4 separate regions of the Homo sapiens genome follow, and all the other regions are reported to be linked to region 1. The links are microRNA targets in miRTarBase. Many come from high-throughput screens and were not tested one by one. Region 1 holds a microRNA gene; each other region holds the end of a gene's coding sequence.
Evidence for each region. The annotated mature microRNA hsa-miR-3926 reads UGGCCAAAAAGCAGGCAGAGA and lies in region 1 at 1,327-1,347, opposite strand. An mRNA with a match to its seed (bases 2 to 7 or 8) in the 3' UTR can be bound and repressed. Matches are read on the target gene's strand: a 7mer-m8 pairs with bases 2 to 8, a 7mer-A1 pairs with bases 2 to 7 and ends in A, and an 8mer does both.

Region 1 (3,095 bases):
GTGGTTGAATAAGTTGAACTTCCAACCCATCTAAGTTTTGAAAGGTTTACATTTCTGCCCTGTTTTATTGAATGTATTAGTAGTTGAAGCCGATGGAATTAGTAGATTGAAATTTGATGTAAATGTAAACACATCAAATCTTATAAGAATTGTTTTATATATTAAGATTGTTCTTGTGCCTAAGATAACCTTAATGATAAAATAGAGTTGAATGCTGTGTGAAGACCCTGGGGCAGACATAGAAAGCACTGCCAGTGTACATGTTGGTGATATCTTAACAGGGTAGGGTTTTTGTGATGTCTTTCTAGAATAGGGTTAATGTGGCCCTTTTGATGTTTGCAATACCCAGTTTACCTACTGCAGTTAGTTTAGGAACCGGAAAAGTGACTTATGATGCTACAAATACCAAATTGAAGGCAATTTCTTTTGGAAAGGCATTATAAAAACATAGATCTTATCCCTTCTCTTATTCATTGATCTGTTTAGGCCCTTCATTTCGTCAGCATTTATTGGATATTGGCATTAGGTATTTTCACAAACATTAACTCATAGAATTTTCACAACTCTATGAAATAGTAGATGAGGAAAGTACAATTCAGAGGTGTTAATTAATTTGCCTGAGAGCCTATAGATAATGTAACAAAAATGATTAAAGCAAACTGTCTGACTCAGACTTTGAGCTTTATCACTATGCCATTTGGCTCTCTGTTGATAAACCTGATTAGTCTGACGTTGGCAGTCCTATCTTATTATAAAAATGCTATGGGGGTACTTTGTCTTGTGCAGTTGGCCGAAAGTATTGTGTGAGTTGAAATTTTGAGTTGATTGATAGAATCTGTGCCTTAGGCATACTTGGTTAATGGAATCACTTGCTAAAGGTTCTTCTTTGTAAAGTTAATAACCATATTTCAGTTTTGTGTAAATTTATGTCTTCACTTATTGGATTTGATGACAAAATCACTTGAGTATATGGCTAAATTACATGACTATATGTATTAATACTTACAAACATGTAGGCAATAGAATCACATTCTAAAAGTATTACAGATATGATATTTATAAACGAGTCCTCTTTGGTCCTCGGAATGTCTAGTAATCTTTTCTCATCATGTCTTCATCTATATAATGATTTTCTTGTCCATTCTGGAAAACCTTCTCAAATTTGTTTTATATGGCAAATTTTCCTCTTCTTATAATAATTCTGTTTTCTGTGACTTCTAATGAAATTTTAAGTTCTGTTAAAATTATCACAGTAAAGTTCCTTGACTTTAAAAGCTTGCTTTTAAAATGGAGCTGGCCAAAAAGCAGGCAGAGACTTTAAAAGCGTCTCTGCCTGCTTTTTGGCCAGCTCCGTTTTTCATCACTGACGCTTATAATTGTTATCATTCCTTGTTTACCAGAGCCTGTCATTTGTTTTCTTGAATTTTGTGAGGGTGCAGAGCAGATGCTTTAAAAAAAAAAAAAAAAAAGATTTAACAAGGCATAAGTTTGTTTCTTGCTCCTATCAATGTATGTTAGCAGGGGCCTGAATCATGTATAGTCATTTCAGGACCAAAATTCTTCAATTGTGTGGCTCCTCTACCTTTTTTAAAAGTTTATTTTTATTGTGGTAAAATATACATAGAATTTACCATTTTAACCATCTTTGAGTGCACACAGTGGCATTAAGTACATTCACATTGTTATGCAAAAAACAGATGCTCTTTAAACTTTAGTTTTCATTTCAAATCTTTCAAAAGTAAAAAGTTTGCTTTTTTGTCTCTGGTGTGCTGTAGTCTTATTTTTATATTTCGAAATGTTTTCAGAGTCCCTTTGTTGTTTTTAAATGAGTCATCCTTGAAGTATGAAAGGCTGAGTCAGGCCTGGTATTTTTTCAGATGAGTTTGTGCATATGAGACAGAGCACGACCTGGCAAGTAGCAAGTGGGATGTAAGTGTGCATTAAAGAAATCAGTATAAGATGGATGAGTTAAACTTAGATCTTCCCACCTGTGTTCTCTGAGACTACTCTTCTATCTCAGGCTGGAAGCCTGATGCAATTAATTTTACATTTGCAGTTTGGTGACCCAGTAGTCTAAAGAATACACTGAGGGGTTCCAGAGGTAGCCATAGCCTTGGGCCTTGCCAGCAGAAGCTCATCATTGTGTAATTGACTCTCTGACATACTGGCTTTATATGCTAACTTATTTGTTGTAGCTTTTTGTTTGTTTTTGTGTTTTGACCCAGTTCCCTAGTAAAAGATGTAACTGTGCCTGGACTCCTCCTGTTACTACTTTCTGTCATGTCATCTACACCCTAACTACTTATCTTTTCTTTTTTTGTAGCAACTATCATCCACTTTTTTGTTCCACTGCTTTCAAAAACCATTGATCCATAAAGACAAATGGAATTCCAAATTAGACCTCTGAACCAGAACTCACTCTCAATCTTACTCTTCCCACTTGAGGGCTGTTGTAGGGTTCTGCAATATTGCACTGCTAAGTCAGCAAGGTTAGGCATAGGTCAGGCCTTGTTGTCTTTCTTTAGTCTGGTCAGCCCTATATGAGACAGAAATGTGTATTAAAGCATAGGAATAATACTCTCTGGGACGTCAGCACTGAAACAGGTATTGCCCTGTTCTTCTGATCCCTTTTTCCATTTGTGTCGGTTGGCATATGGCATATGGACGGGGGATTAGACACAGAAGTCTTACTGACTATTGTATTTCTAGGTTGAGAATGAAGATGAGATTAAGAATCTCAGAGAGCTTCATGATTTGGTTTACTCTCAAGCCTGCAGCTGGTTTCAGAATTTAAGAGACAGATTTCGAAGCCAAATTCTTCAGCATTTCGGATCAATGCCCGAGAGGGAGGAAAACCTTCAGGTATGGTGGCTTTTCTGTTCTTCCAAAAGTCACTTTTTTATAAACCCAAATTTGCACACTTCTACATTTGTTTTCTCATTGTCCTTTCTGCACTACTTTTTCTTTGACTGTCCCCTCCCCCGCACCAGCCCCACCTCATCTTTGCAATCATGAGTTCTCTAGAGCAGTGGTCTCCACTACATTCCGTACAGATAGAGGCTGGAAATACGTGTCAGCTGAGATGCCTGTAGGAG
Region 2 (3,095 bases), not on the chromosome of region 1:
CCTAACTTGGCCAAAAGTAAAGATCTTCCATCCTGGGCTGGCTGCACTGAGTAATTGCTGACCTACATCTCTCTGAGATGCAGCCCCCAGAAGACAAGCAAAGAGATAATGCAGCAAGCCAGCTCATGTGGTGGCCAGAGGGTTTGGTGCAAGAGCATCTGTAGTAAAGTGTGGCCAGTGATGGCCATTTCTCTAGGCTCAACTGTCTCCCATAAGAGACTTTAGCCCTACGGGAACTGTTGGGCCTAATTTCTGCAGGATGGTCTTGCAAATCAGAAGAAGCTGGTCCAACTGAGCACTCCTTGGTCTGCTGGCCTCTCCCAGGGACCCAGTCTGGCCACAGCTGCTTACAGGGCAGTCTCAGGTACCCTGGAAGCTCATACCAGAGCATCTGCACTGGAGGGACATGCCTGACTCATGAAGAGCTCCAGCAAAGCAGCCCCTATGACTGCACCAGCCCACATTTCTTCCCCATACTGCAGCTTCCCGTGACACCATGGCAACTCCTGATATTTCTTTGCTGGCACATGTCTGCAAAGGCAGGTTTGGCTTTGCTTGCCCCACCAGCAAATGGGAATGCAATATGCCCCGCCACCCCCAGCAACTGCCATTGTAGATGAAACTTTGGTGGGCAGAGAGCCAGAAAACTCCACCCCTGCCTTTGTGCTAACACTGTGCAGAGAACAGGGTAACCTCCCACACTCTGAACAATCACTCTTTCTTGGGGGGCACAGAGAAGGCATCAAAACCTTTACTGGCCAGTATCCTGCCCCAAGCCAACACCACCTTTAGTGCAACAGCACACAGCCTCCAGCAGGTATCCCCCACTCCCTTCCCAGCTGCTTTGCTCCTGCCACTGAGGTGAGTACCCAAAGACAGGCAGAAATCCCATATCCACTAGCACTCTGCTCCAGCTATGGCACCTTCATCCCACAAACTCGCAAACTCCAAATCTCAAGGAGCCAGAGAACACAGTTGGGGCTCAAAACAAGTCCCCCGGAGTTAGAGTATGCAGCCTCTGAGTTGTGAGCTGAGCATTGCCCACCCACCACCACCACCAAACAAAACAAAACAAAACAAAACAAAACAAAAAAAACCTCCCAGGAACAAAGCCTGTTGGCTGCATCCATCTTATACCACAATCAAATACTCAAGACCATCAAATAGGATTAAAAAAAAAAAAGCCCAAAGGTCAGCAACCTCAAAGATATGCCCACAAAGATAAGACACAATCAGTGCAAAGATAAAAACACAAAAAGCCAGAGTGACTTCTTTCATCCAAATGACCAAATTACATTTCCAGCAAGGCCTAAGATGACAGAAGTAGAATTCAGAATATGGGTAGAAACAAACTTCACTGAGTTACAAAAGTAATTTGCAACCCAATGCAAGGGAGGAAAAAAAATTGCAGGAACTGACGGAAAAAACAGCCAGTCTGGAGAAAAAATGTGGCCAACCTGATAGAACTGAAAAACACAATACAAAACCTTTATAATGTAATCACATATATTAACAGCAGAATAGGCCAAGCAGAGGAAAGAATCTCAGGGCCTCAAGACTGGCTTTCTGAAATCAGACAGACAAGAACAGTGAAAAAAGAATAAAGAGGAATGAACAAAACCTCTAAGAAATATGGGATTATGTAAAGAAACCAAATCTATGATGCAAGAGATTGCCTGAAAGTGATGGGGAGAATGAAAACAACTTGAAATACGTATTTCAGGATAACATCCATGAGAACTTCCCCAACCTAGAGAGGCCAACATTCAAATGCAGGAAATGTGGAGAACCCCAGTAAGATACCCCAGGAGAAGGTCATCCTCAAGACACATAATCATGAGATTCTCCAGGGTCAAAATGAAAGAAAAAATATGTTAAAGGCAGCTAGAGAGAAAGGCCAGGTCACCTCTAAAAAGAAGCTCATCAGGAAAACAACAAATCTTTCAGCTGAAATCCTACAAGTCAAAAGAGATTATAGGGGCCAATATTCAACATTCTTAAAAAAAGAATTCCAACACAGAATTTCATATCTGACCAAGGTAAGCTTCAGAAGTAAAAAATATATATGATCCTATTCAGACAAGCAAATGCTGAGAAAATGTTACCACAGGATCTGTCTTAAAAGAGCTTCTGAAGAAAGCATTAAATAAGAAAAAGACTATTACCAGTCACTACAAAAGCACACTAAAGTATACAAACTGTGGACACTATAAAGCAACCACAGAAACAAATGTGCAAAATAGCCAGCTAAGATCCTAATAACAGAATCCAATCCACACATATGAATACTAACCTTAAATGTAAATGGGCTAAATACCCAAATTAAAGCACAGATGGCAAGCTGAAAAAAGAATCAAGATCTAATGGTATGCTTTAATCAAGACACCCATCTCAAATAAGCTCAAAATAAAGGGAAAAAGAAAAGCCTACCAAGCAAATAGAAAACAGGAAAAGAAGCAGGGGTTGCAATCCTAGTTTCTGACAAAACAGACTTGAAATTAACATAGATTTAAAAAAAAAGGGCATTACATAATAGCAAAGGGCTATATATGTACCCAACATATAAGCAACCAGATTATAAAGTAAGTTCTTAGAGACCCTCTAAGATGATAAATGTTCTTCCACTGTCATTACATTTATACTGCATTTGTTCAGTATTAAATTTCAGATGTTGAACACAGTATGAGGACTTGGTAAAGGCTTTTCCACATTTTTAACACTTGTGGAGCTTCTCTCTAGTATGAATTCTCTTATGTCTGATGAGGTGTGAGAACCAGCTCGATGCTTTGCCACATTCTTCACATTTGTAGGGTTTCTCTCCAGTGTGAATTCTCTTATGATTAGTCAGGTCTGAGAAGCACTTAAAGGTTTTGCTGCATTCTTCACATTTGTAAGGTCTCTCTTCCATATGAATTCTCTTGTGGTTAAAAAGGGTTGAGGAGCGGGTAAAGGCTTTGCCACATTCTTCACAGATGTAGGGTTTCTCTCCAGTATGAATTCTCTTATGTTTACTAAGGGCCGAGAACCACTTAAAAGCTTTTCCACATTCATTACATGTGTAGGGTTTGTCTCCAGTATGAATTATCTTATGTTTA
Region 3 (3,056 bases), not on the chromosome of region 1:
GACCTGGGCCTCTGATCAGAACCACCTCTGCCCTAAGTCCTGGTGATGGGGCCCTGAGGGCGACCAGGCAGGCACAGAGGTTGGGTGGTCAGGCTGGTTTCAAGTGCTGCCCGTGCAGGGCTGGGGCCCAGCACCAGCCTCAGTGTCCTCCTCTCCTCCCCCAGGGGAAATGGAGAAGCACCTGCTGCTCCTCTCCGAGCTGCTGCCGGACTGGCTCAGCCTCCACCGCATCCGCACCGACACCTACGTCAAGCTGGACAAGGCCGCGGACCTCGCCCACATCACTGCACGCCTGGCCCACCAGACACGTGCTGAGGAGGGGCTGTGAGCCTGGGGGCCACTGTGGACAGACGTGGGCTTCAGAAGCTCGCTGGCCTGGGCCCACCAGCATTTTCTTTTATGAACATGATACACTTTGGCCTTCCTTTCCCCAGCGCCCCTGAGGGCCAGAGGCAGATGTGGGCTGCAGGCTGCACAGCCCGAGGGTCTCTGGCTGCGGGCGGTGGGCCCCTTCATGGGGCTCACCTGGTGGATTCACATTAAACCGGTTTCTGTGGGCACCTCTGTCCTTGCTGCTGGTGGGGAAGGGAAGCCAGATCCAGCACCCCCTGGGGGGCCATCGGGAGTGTGGCTGGGGGTGAAGGGGGCTCTGTGGCAATATGGGGTTGGGTAGTGTGGGTGGCAGGCCATCCCCTCTAATCTTGGAACCTCTGAATATGGGACCTCCCACAGCAAAGGGTGACTTTTGTCATTAAGAAAGACTGGGGTGGGTGTGGTGGCTCACGCCTGTAACCCCAGCACTTTGGGAGGCCAAGGTGGGCAGATCACGAGGTCAAGAGATCGAGACCATCCTGGCGAACATGGTGAAACCCCATCTCTACTAAAAATACAAAAAATTAGCCGGGTGTGGTGGTGGGCACCTGTCGTCCCAGCTACTAGGGAGGCTGAGGCAGGAGAATGGTGTGAACCCAGGAGGCACAGCTTGCAGTGAGCGAAGATCGCACCACTGCACGCACTCCAGCCTGGGTGACAGAGCGAGACTCCGTCTCAAAAAAAAAAATTTCAAGACTGGAGAGGTGATCCTGAATTGTCCAGCTACGCCCCATGTCATCACAGGGCCTTCATGACAGGGCCAGAGCCAGCCAGCTTTGAAGACGCGGCCCTGCCCCGACACAGGCAGCCTGGAGAAGCTGGGCAGGACAAGTAGGACATCCCTGGAGCCTCCAGAAGGGACTGGCCTCTGCCCACACCTTGACTTCAGTATTTCTGACCTCCTAAACTCTAATAAAGTCATGCTTACAGCCACTAGATCTGCAGAAGAGCCCTCGCTTGCTCCCCTAGAAGATGGGCCCACATGGCCTCTTCCTGCAGTGCCTGGAGGGTTCTAGCTCCTGAGGTGAGAACCAGGACAGGTTCTGCTGGGCATCACGCCAAGCAGCACATGCCCACAGTACAGCTGAAGTCTGGTGTTGTCCTGGGGCTCCCTGCCCTGGGGAACAGGAGGACAGGAGACGGCTCTTGTGGGAAAGCTGTTTACTGCGTTCTCCCGCTGTGTGTAATTGGGTTCAGTGTGGCTGAAACACAGCTTTGCCCCAGGCTTTGGCACTTCCAGCCCCAGGAGAGGCGCTGAACCCCAGCAAAGGAATGTGTTCCCTGTGGGCAGCCGGTGCCCCTGGTCACTGCAGTTGCCCAAGGCTGATATTTCCCTGGGATCCAGCTGGAGATGTTGGGCTGGGAGGCCCTGTGGTCACTCATACTGCAGGAGAGAGAAGAAGGGTACAGGTGCCAGCTTCTCCCTGCCCTTAAGCGAGGTCAGCTCCACCAGGCTCACGCACTCCAGGACCTCAGCCTGCAGGCGGCCCAGCAGCTCACAGGCAGCGTTCATGGTTCCTGGGGATGGGAGGGTGAGGTCCCCAGTTGGCCTGGGCTGCAGAGAGCAGGTGCTCCAGGCCAGCCCCTGGGTTGGGGAGGGGAAGGCATGGGGAGAGGAAGGTGTCGGCCTGGCCACCAGGCACCCTCTGGACAACAGTAAGCTGCATCCCATGTCACACAGCGAGGTCCTGTCCCACTCCCACCAGGCCCTTGGAGCCACAGCAGTTGGCTGCGGGGAGACCCTTACCACCAGTGGCCAGCAGATCATCCACGACGACCACCCTCTGTCCTGGCTCCAGGGCGTCTTTCTGAATCTCCAGCTCAGCCTGGAGTGGGAAGTGGTGTGTGGTCCTCAGCCTCCCGCAGAAAACAGCTTTGTTGCACAGCTTGGCAGCTGCCACCCTAGACCCTGACTCCAACCCCACCTTGCTGTTACCTGGCTGTGTGAGCCCAGCCTATGTCTCAACCTCTCTGAGCTCCCAAGGCCACTGTAACCACAGCAGCTCCACTTGACACGCCTGGGAAGGCCTTTTAGAACTGGGGGAGAGTGGCCACGGTGGCCTGGCCCTGCCCTTCCTCTGGCCACCCCAGCCCTCTTACCTTCCCGTACTCCAGGGAATAGGAGGCCCACAGAGTGGGGCCTGGCAGCTTCCCCCGCTTTCGGATGAGCACGCAGCCCAGTCCAAGCTCCTGGGCCAGGGAGGGGCCAAAGAGGAAGCCTCGGGAGTCTAGGCCTGTCAGGGTAAGTGACAGGAGTGACTCGGCAGCATGGGAATCCCCAGGGGCCAGGGTTGGCCGGTGGCAAGGGGTACCTGGTTGGCTCCCAGCTGAAAGGCCAGTGACATGCACCATTTAAGGAATGTTACCCATCACCTACCCGGAGCTGCTTCCAGGTCAGAGTGCAGACCTGGGTCTGTCTTTTAAGGGACCACTTCTTAGCTGTGTGTTCCTAGGGGAGTCACCACCCCTCTCTCTGAGCTGAGCAGCCCATCTGTAACTGGGCTGGTAGAAACCTGACAGGCCTCAGCTTACTCTCAAAGGCAGCTCTGCACCAGGGCTTCTGTCTAAAAAGGGAGTCTCTCGAGGTGGCCTGAGCTGTGATGGTTGGGGGACGCTCAGGGAAACCCTGCCCCGGCCTGGCAGGAGGTCAGGGAGGGCTTCCTGCAGGAGGTGAGAAGGGAGCT
Region 4 (3,095 bases), not on the chromosome of region 1:
CTGATAGTAATCCCATATCAGAACTACTAAACACACCTTTGTGGTCCTTTAGTTTAACAACTGGCTATCAAGCTGACTGGTCTTCCTAGACTTATCAGGTCTAGCACCCCTCCTCGCATTTGATGACTGCATTTCATTTCAACGAAACATATATTTAAGAACAAATTCTACATCTACTGTTATTTCTGGAGAGGCTGAGTCAGTTGTTTCTATCTCTGTGGTTACTGAGTGCCAATGTATGCTTTTTACTCTAGGGCATTGCTTCTAAGGTCCCATCTTTTTTCCTTTGCCTTGTTTCTTGTATCACTGAGAGCAGAAATGAATTCCTGGTTTTATGCTTTTGAGGCTCAAGCTGCAAAGATGCTTCTCTACACTTTGATCTGGATTGTTCTGTTGACTTTCTTGGACATCTAAAATTTTGTTGTAATCATAAATGGCAATATCAAAGATTTTTATGGCTTGTACAGTGATTGCACATAAGAGCCCACTTCTACACTTGGGCTCTGAGTTGACTCTAGAAGAGCCTTTTCAGAATGGCATTTTGGAGTTGTGCCCCTGAGTTATCAATATGTTCCTTCCTGATGTTTTTTAGTCAAACTTTACCCCCTGTTGACAAGGGGCAGGCACTTTACTTAGTGTGATGCCCCAAAATGATTGCCTAGGAGAAAGTGTGTCCTGGAGAAACATGAGGAATCTCTACTCTGAGCCTGTGAGAAGAATCTTGGTCAGATTCTGCCCAAAGATGATACTCAGAGGTGCTCAAGATTATGTAATCAAAATATAATGGCCAAGGTTTCCTACACTGGTGAAAAACAAAATACCATTCCATTTTGGGGCAAATTCAGAAAGCTGAAGGATAAAGGTTTGTTGTTGTTCTTGGACAGCTGGAATGCAAGGGCAATAGTACTCCATCATATTCCAAGCTGCTAAATCATGAAGGAAACAAGGAATCAAGAAAACATACATTATTCACAGGTGGATACTGGCTGCTATGCACAATTAGGGATATTACTCTAAAAAGAAGAGCTTTCTTTGTTTTCAAAATAGAAATAGCAAAGTCATCCTCCAAGAAAAAGTTCAATCAAATTCAACTTTAAGGAAAATTTAGCAATTCACTATTTTCTATAAGAAAAGCAAAATATGAGCCTTATATTGATAGAAGGAAGACATATTAGCTTATTCTCCTCTTGTCCAACATATGAATGCTTATGTCCAATTAGTGTAGAAAGAAGCACAATGGCATAACTTAAAAATAGAAAAAAAATACATCATGCCTGCCTGATTAACAGTTATATATTTTTCTGCAATATCAACTGAGGCTCATAACATTTATCATGTTAATGTGGCTTTGTTATTATTTTCCACTAGTTTTCATATTTTCCTTGATTAGGCAGATTGCAACATATACAATGAAAGCACTCTTAAGAAAATCAAGCCCCAAACCAATGAATGCACAAATTAACTCTCTGTGTGTTCATACTCCTTGAAGTATTATTTGCTTTGAAAAATACAATGGTGAATTTCATTGCATATAAGAAAATATAGTTCACTCAATCTCTCCAAAGCCTTACTTTGCCAGTCTCCTAAGAATATAATCAGAATTTTGGAAGCAAAAAAAAAGCTGGAGAGGACCATGAATCCTTTAAAGTGATGAACAAATCCTTCTCTTGAAATACTCTATTAAATTAAGAAATAAAATTATAGGGACAAAAATTGCAGGGACAGCTGACTTCGTCTGAGAAAAACAATCTGTTTGCTAGTTTGTGCTCTGTATTTGTATATTTGAATGACTCTGAATCTAACCTGAATATCTAAGACAATTCTCATTTCTCTAATTTTTGTATTTCATGGTTATCTTCGATTAAACTATAAAAACCTCTTTAGGTATGCTGTCAAAAGCTAGTGATGTTGGAAAAACAATCTCTCTTACTCACCCTCTGCCACTAGACACAGTATGTATAGACCAGATGCTGTGTGGAGCTGATAAGGGTCATGCTTTCTTGCTTGCTTGCTTTTTGTTACAACCGTCGTTTCTGATTTTCTACTCTGCTCTGTGTTGTTAACTCTTACTTTAACCACCTAGGAAATAGCCGTTTAGCAAAAATTTTCTTGGCCACCATGCATGATATTGTCCAGAAGTCTCCTCATCTCTAAATGCCAAAATGAAAGACATCATAGTTGATTCTCCGTGCTCAAGCAAAGGGACTGGCCAAATCGGTTTCCTGAGTCTCTGTCTTGATTCCCCTAGCCTGCTCAAATCACAAGAGAATCTTTTAGAAACCAGTGGGAATAATCTTCCCATGACACCATTATCATCTCAGTAAGAAAATCATAGATCATCTTCAAGTAATGTGTTTGCATGGCATTACAGATAATGTTTCATAAGGACAATGCCATCTCAACAGCATGCCGACCTTAAAAAGGAAGATGAGGAGTATCTGGTTATGACCAAATGACTGACAATGCTGTTGAGCCTTCTAAGAATATCTTCCAAATTATTCCCCTCTGAGTAGGCTGCATACTAAACAGACAACATGGAGCACTCAGGCTGTCTAGCCACCATGTGTAAAAATCACTTGCGTTTTAACTGGAAAACCACAAGGACCTTAGTGTATTCATTACTTAGCAGAAGCAACCCAAATGGTATGAAATGGACCACAGGATAGGCCAGCAACTAAGGTATTTTAGCGTCACTTTTGTCCTGGATTGATGTGTTTTCCAAGTCCTACATCAGGCTGTACAACTGGTTTGAGGAGGAATCTAGTCCTTGCTTCCAGTGGGAGGCCATGTTTTAGTTCACATAATAAAGCCAATAGACGATGTTGAAGAAGGAAAAAACCACTGGGAAGAATATGCGGGACCACCGATCTATGGCATTCACATCAGTCAAGTCAGGGATGGTGATTTTCAGTTGGGAGGCGCGTCTCCTCAGGCGACTTTTCTTTTGCGCCACATGTCGTTCCAGAGCATTTCGGCCAAAACTATGCCTGGGCAACCCAGCTTTCCGATACTGGATGCTGGAGGCATCATAGGCTAGCATTGTGCTTCTGGGGTCTCCAAGTCCCATCACAGCCTCAGATGTGGCCATTTCATTT

Region 2: miRTarBase lists ZNF736 as a target of hsa-miR-3926. Seed matches in the 3' UTR shown: 7mer-A1 at 1,450-1,456 and 8mer at 8-15.
Region 3: miRTarBase lists CDT1 as a target of hsa-miR-3926. Seed matches in the 3' UTR shown: 7mer-m8 at 415-421.
Region 4: the mRNA of GABRB2 is a reported target of hsa-miR-3926. Seed matches in the 3' UTR shown: 8mer at 2,207-2,214 and 7mer-A1 at 785-791.

Annotation. Positions count from the first base shown.
Region 1 is chr8:12,725,494-12,728,588 of GRCh38, reverse strand. MIR3926-2 (microRNA 3926-2) reads right to left here and starts at 1,352; the gene lies at 1,290-1,352. It overlaps LONRF1 (LON peptidase N-terminal domain and ring finger 1), which reads left to right. Exons shown (of 12, transcript NM_152271.5): 11 at 2,710-2,862. MIR3926-1 (microRNA 3926-1) reads left to right here and starts at 1,285; the gene lies at 1,285-1,357. RefSeq lists an enhancer at 1,738-1,787.
Region 2 is chr7:64,348,766-64,351,860 of GRCh38, reverse strand. ZNF736 (zinc finger protein 736) reads right to left here. Exons shown (of 4, transcript NM_001170905.3): 4 at 1-3,095. The coding sequence ends at 2,714. Among named protein-coding and RNA genes, the nearest start is that of ZNF736, 36 kb to the right of the region's middle.
Region 3 is chr16:88,807,951-88,811,006 of GRCh38, forward strand. CDT1 (chromatin licensing and DNA replication factor 1) reads left to right here. Exons shown (of 10, transcript NM_030928.4): 10 at 165-1,308. The coding sequence ends at 328. It overlaps APRT (adenine phosphoribosyltransferase), which reads right to left. Exons shown (of 5, transcript NM_000485.3): 3 at 2,473-2,606; 4 at 2,120-2,198; 5 at 1,389-1,890. The coding sequence ends at 1,748. Among named protein-coding and RNA genes, the nearest start is that of APRT, 2.4 kb to the right of the region's middle. RefSeq lists an enhancer at 2,312-2,847.
Region 4 is chr5:161,291,290-161,294,384 of GRCh38, forward strand. It overlaps GABRB2 (gamma-aminobutyric acid type A receptor subunit beta2), which reads right to left. Exons shown (of 10, transcript NM_001371727.1): 10 at 1-3,095. The coding sequence ends at 2,792. Among named protein-coding and RNA genes, the nearest start is that of GABRB2, 250 kb to the right of the region's middle.